Regions from separate parts of the Homo sapiens genome. Here region 2 is linked to region 1. A link means that fine-mapping ties the variant in region 1 to the expression of a gene that starts in the linked region. Tissue or cell type: whole blood. Region 1 holds a variant in brackets; the other region holds the start of a gene. All regions are shown on one strand. Distances are between the middles of the regions.

What was found. PIP is the estimated chance that this variant, and not a neighbour inherited with it, causes the effect. A credible set is the group of variants that fine-mapping cannot tell apart.
Region 2: RPS17 starts here. The variant in region 1 is the best candidate, but not a certain one, in a credible set for the expression of RPS17 in whole blood (TOPMed, PIP 0.50).

The regions. Positions count from the first base shown.
Region 1 is chr15:82,818,033-82,820,883 of GRCh38, forward strand. It overlaps WHAMM (WASP homolog associated with actin, golgi membranes and microtubules), which reads left to right. Exons shown (of 10, transcript NM_001080435.3): 4 at 1-57; 5 at 1,291-1,456. Among named protein-coding and RNA genes, the nearest start is that of WHAMM, 9.8 kb to the left of the region's middle. The variant A/G (reference allele first, on the strand shown) is at 1,211.
Region 2 is chr15:82,538,956-82,541,630 of GRCh38, forward strand. RPS17 (ribosomal protein S17) reads right to left here and starts at 1,502. Exons shown (of 5, transcript NM_001021.6): 1 at 1,471-1,502; 2 at 1,026-1,177; 3 at 1-30. The coding sequence starts at 1,473. RefSeq lists silencers at 1,509-1,628, 1,639-1,738 and an enhancer at 1,858-2,359.

The sequences.
Region 1 (2,851 bases):
CTCATGAGAGCGAAAGAGTTGTGTTTAAATCACAAAAGAGCTGAAATTCAGGGAAAGGTAAGACAAAGATAAACATAACTTTGTTTTAAAAATACACTTTTATTTTTAAAACATTTTGTATAAATAAAGGATACAAGTGCAGTTTTTGTTCCATGGATATATTGTGTAGTGGTGAAGTTTGGGCTTTTAGTGTAATCATCACCTGTATAATGTAATTGTACCTATTAAATATTTCTCATCCCCCCTCCCACCCTCTTACTCTTCTGAGTCTCCAGTGTGTATTATTCCACACTGTGTATACACATTACTTAGCTCCCACTTATAAGTGAGACCATGTGGTAAAGCACACTTTTATTTTTAGATAGCACTTTTCTTTCCAGGCATCGTTAAAGAGCTTCTTTTCTTCGCTTATTCCAACACCATCTTCTGTGGAAGGTTAGACATAAAGTTTTCCTTTGGTTAAGATGTTTCAAAATACCATATTGTAGGTTTCACTTTATAGTAATACCAAGCTCAGTATTGAAATGGGTACTGTACTTGAAAATCAACCCAGCAATGTTTTCACTACAACTTTAAAATAATCAAAGAGATACTTCACTGCATAGTCACTTAAATTTTTTCCTATAATCTTATGACTTTAAAGCAGAAAACACTGTAAACACCTGTCTTAGTTGGCTCAGGCTTCTATAACAAGATTAAATATCACAGATTGGGTGGCTTAAACAACGGACATGTATTTCTCACAGTTCTGGAGGCTGGAAAGTCCAAGATCAAGGTGCCTGCAGATTCACTGTCCGGTGAGGATCCTCTTCCTGTCTGGTAGACAGCTGCCTTCTTAACTGAGTGCTCATATAGCCTTTCTTCTGTGTGTATGTTTAGAAAGAAAGTGATCCCTCTCTTTCTCTTCTAATAAAGGCACTAATCCCATGATGGGGGTGCTATCCTTTTGACATAATCTGAACTTAATTACTTCCAAAGGACCCACCTCCAAATAACATCACACTGGGAGTTAGAGTGTCAACATACGAATTTTTGGGGGGACACCAATATGCAGTACATAATAATACCTCATTGCCATTTATGTTTCTCAGAACCTAAATGTTTTCCTCTGTTTCAAGGATGAGATAAAGTATTTGCATCACTAGATGAAATGAAAAAGTGTTTCTTTCCTATTTGCTTTGTTATATTTAGTACTGAACAAGGAATAGAA[A/G]ATAGCTAGAATGCTTCTAAAGTTTGTTTTTAATATACTAATTTATTTTAACTTATTTTTCTTTTTTCTATGAAAATAAGATGGAAGATCTTCCAGAACAAGAAAAAAATACAAATGTTGTAGATGAATTAGAAATACAATTTTATGAAATTCAATTAGAACTATATGAAGTTAAATTTGAGATATTAAAAAACGAAGAAATACTGCTTACTACACAGTTGGACTCTCTTAAAAGACTTATAAAAGGTAAAATTTAAGTATATAGATTGCAATGTTTAAATTATAAATTTAAGGAAATACAGACCATATTATCAATTACTTTTTGTAAATTATAACATCTGAAAATTTCCTAAAGTTTTCCTTCAGTGGTTTATTATTCAAATAATATATTCATTGTTAACACATAGCAAAACAAAGAAAGAAAAATGATTATTACCCCAATCCCATCATCTAGAGATGCTTAGTGGTTGGCTGGGCACAGTGGCTCACGCCTATAATCCCAGCACTGTGGGAGGCCGAGGCGGGCAGATCACTTGAGATTAGGAGTTCCAGACCAGTCTGGCCAACATGGTGAAACCCCATCTCTACTAAAAATACAAAAATACTAAACCCTGTCTCTACTAAAAACACAAAGTCCAGTGTGGTGGCACGTGCCTGTAATCCCAGCTGCTTGGGAGGCTGAGGCAGGAGAATGGCTTGAACCTGGGAGGTGGAAGTTTCAGTGAGCCAAGATCGTGCCACTCCACTCTAGCCTGGACAACAGGGCGAGACTCCATCTTGAAAAGGAAAAAAAAAAAAAGATACTTCGTGGTAACAATTTGCTGTATAACTTTGTAGATTTTAAAATATGCTGATATATAAAAATATAAATTTTTAACCAAAATATATAACCAGTTCAGTAACATCTTTTTAAACAATTTTTAATTTTTATGGGTGCATAGTAGATATATATTTTTATGGGTTACATGAGATATTTTGACATAGGCATATAATGCATAATAGTCTCTTTTTCATTTAATACATAACTGTCTTTCTATTTCAGTGAATAATAAAAGTATCAAAATTTTAATGGCTGCATAGTATTCCATTATATGGATATACCATGATTTCCAAATTTCAGGTGTTTTGAACAGTAGTGTAGTGAACTTTACACATGTCTTTGAGTATAGGACAGATTATTTCCTTGGAATAAATTTCTAAGGATGGAATTATTGGGTCAAGGGCAATGTATATTTTACATTTTGATACATAACAGTACAATAATCATCTGAGATACATTTTTCCTCACCTCCATATTATTTTCTGATTTCTAAATTTCATGCTACATAATGACCCTCTAGATAGGTTGTACATTTAAAATGATGCTCCCAGGCTGGGTGTGGTGGCTCACACCTGTAATTTCAGCACTTTGGGAGGCTGAGTGGGGCAGATCACTTGAGGTCAGGAGTTCAAGACCAGCTTGGCCGACATGTTGAAACCCTGTCTCTACTAAAAATACAAAAATTAGCTGGGCATGATGGTAGGCGCCTGTAATCCCAGCTACCTGTGAGGCTGAGGCAGGAGAATCGCTTGAACCTGGGAGGTGGAGATTGCAGTGAGCCGAGATGGTGCCACTGCACTCCAGCCTGGGCGGCAGAGTGT
Region 2 (2,675 bases), 280 kb before region 1:
TGAATTCGCTTCATCAGATGCGTGACATAACTACAAAGCACACACAGCCAAAGAGAACAGTGAGAAGACAAATCAACTCCCACCTGGTACTGAGCACATGTGCATATATAAATACCCGCTTTAGTTCTTTTCCACAGTGAGAAGGAAGAGGACTCACTATCCTGGGACCTCCTACACATAGAACCTCCACTGGCCTGAGCATTCCTTCCCCTTGGTTTCTCACTCTCTATTCAAACTCTCCTTCATGATGATCAAGCGCCCCACCCCCAACTCGCCCCGCCCCGCCCCGCAGTTTCACGACCCTTCACAGCCTTCATTTTCTTCCAATTTCAAATTCACATAACTTGGCAATTAATACGTTGACTTTGGCACTATTCTTCCAGGCCATATGCCTATAAATCTCTCGAACAGTAACTGCAACTGTGAAGTAAGCATTAGAAGTTGACATCCAGCCGGGCGAGGTGGCTCACGCCTGTAATCCCAGCAATTTGGGAGGCCGAGGCGGGCGGATCGCTTGAGGTCAGGTGTTCGAGACCAGCCTGGTCAACATTGTGAAACCCTGTTGTCTACTAAAAATACAAAAATTAGCCGAGTGTGGTAGCACGTGCCTCTAATCCCAGCTACTGGGAAGGCTGAGGCATGACAATCGCTTGAACCCGGGAGACGGAGGTTGCAGTGAGCCGAGATGGCGCCACTGCACTCTAGCCTGGGCGCCAGGGCAAGATTCCGTCTCAAAAAAAAAAGAAAAAAAAGAAAGAAAAAAGTTGACAACTAAAAGCAACGTAGCTTCAAAGCAAGAGGTCTGACGGTGGCTACCTTCGACCCAGGGTCACCGCGGCCAGTCATGACACAGGCCTAAGTTCACAACAGAAATCCTGCACACGCAGAGCTCTAGCCCTTCTCCGGGACACCAGGGAGTCTCAGGCTAACGAAACCACCAAGGCACCGTCTCTTCCCGAGTCGGAGGGCGGCAGAGCACACAAACAGATCGCGGAGCCCCGGAGGCCGAGGAAGGCCCGACTCACCCTGCTATCTTGTTGCGGAGCTTTTTGCTGGGGATAATGGCGATCTCCTCGCACACGCGCTTGTTCGTGTGGAAGTCGTTGCCCAGGCGCGTGTAGTACTTTTCTATGATGACCCGGGCCGCCTTCTTCACGGTTTTGGTGCGAACGCGGCCCTGCGGGTGGAGAGGACAGGATCACTCACGAGCCAGCGCAACCTTCTGGGAAGAGTGCGGCGCCGAGCCCCGGCCGGTGTGGTTGGGGACCGCCGGCTGCGCTGAGCCGGAGAGGGCCCGGCTAAACAGTGCCGGGCGCCGGGCTTAATGCGGAAGCCGCCGGCCCGTTGCGCTCCAGCCTGACAGGGCTCTGCGCCTTCCCGGCCCAGGGCCTCTCTGTGGGCTGAGGACCGCGGGAAGCTGCAGATGGGGGACGATTGTGGAGGATGGCGGCCTCGAGCCAAAACACCTACCATGTTGGCGGGTCCTTGGTAAAAGAGGAAACAGGAAGCACAGGCGAAGCCTGTTAAAGCTTAGGCCAGAAAGCCGCTTCCGCCCGGCCACGGTCGCTCTGAGCCTACTCGGGAGCCACACAGCGCCCCCTGGCGGAGTGGAGCGGGGGCGGCGGTGGCGCGCCCCTCCGGTGGGCAGGGTGTCTGTCCCGCCCCCGACGGCTCCTCCCTTTCCGCTCCCCGCTCCCCTCGGTTGACTTGGGCTCGCTTCTCTCCCCCATCTGATTTTTAATGGGACCGCCCGTGCGATGTGCTCTAGCGTAGCGTCCATCTCTTCCACACACGCCAGGGAGAGGAGAAGCATCCGGTCCTCGGGAGGACCGAGAAAAGAAGGCGATCCAGGGCCGTGGAACAATGAGGAAGTGGGGGATGGCGGCCGCCCAGGTCCCCCACTCAGTCCGCGGGCCGGAGACTTGTCAGGTAGAGACAGGGTGCGACTGGGCGAGACGTATCTCATTTCTTCCGGGCCTTTGCTCAAATGTCGCCTTATCAGAGGGCTTTCCCTTCAAACTTAGGTAAAATAACTCCCTCACTATCCCTGCTTATATTTCCTAGCACTTGCCGTGTGATTCGGCTTATTTTTCTCAACTAGGGGTGAGCTCCATGACAGTAATGGTCATTTTGTTTAGCTAATTCCCAGTGCTTGAACAGCGCCTAGCACGTAACAACCTCTAACATTGACGTGAAGGGCCCAGCTCACCAGCAGAGCTCCCAACACCTCAGGTACCTTCTCCATCCACTATCTTCAGGCTGTTCCTGCCGCACCCATCCTCAAACCAGGGCCTTCCGAAGCCACCAGCGCAGGCTGCCCCGATGGGCCGCAGCCTAGGTAGGGCCCTGCCCCCTTCTTCCAACTCTGCTCCCTGGGCTGACAGCAATCCTAGGCTCCCACCTGACAGGGGAAGGCTGAGCTGGCCAGGCTGGATGAGTTAAGCCCAGGGCTGTGCCTCATTCCTCAACGCACCTTGGGTACTCCAGTCGGACTCTCAACTGATTGGGGATGGAAACCTGAAGGACAGGAAACCCTGGCAGCAAAAAGTACCAATGGGACAAAAGAAAAGGCCAGAATCTCAGAACTGCGGGAGCAAACTTCCAGTCAAGCTGCTGTCAGGCCCGAAGTGAAAGATCAGGGTTTTTGTTTTTGTTTTTGTTTTTGAGACGGAGTC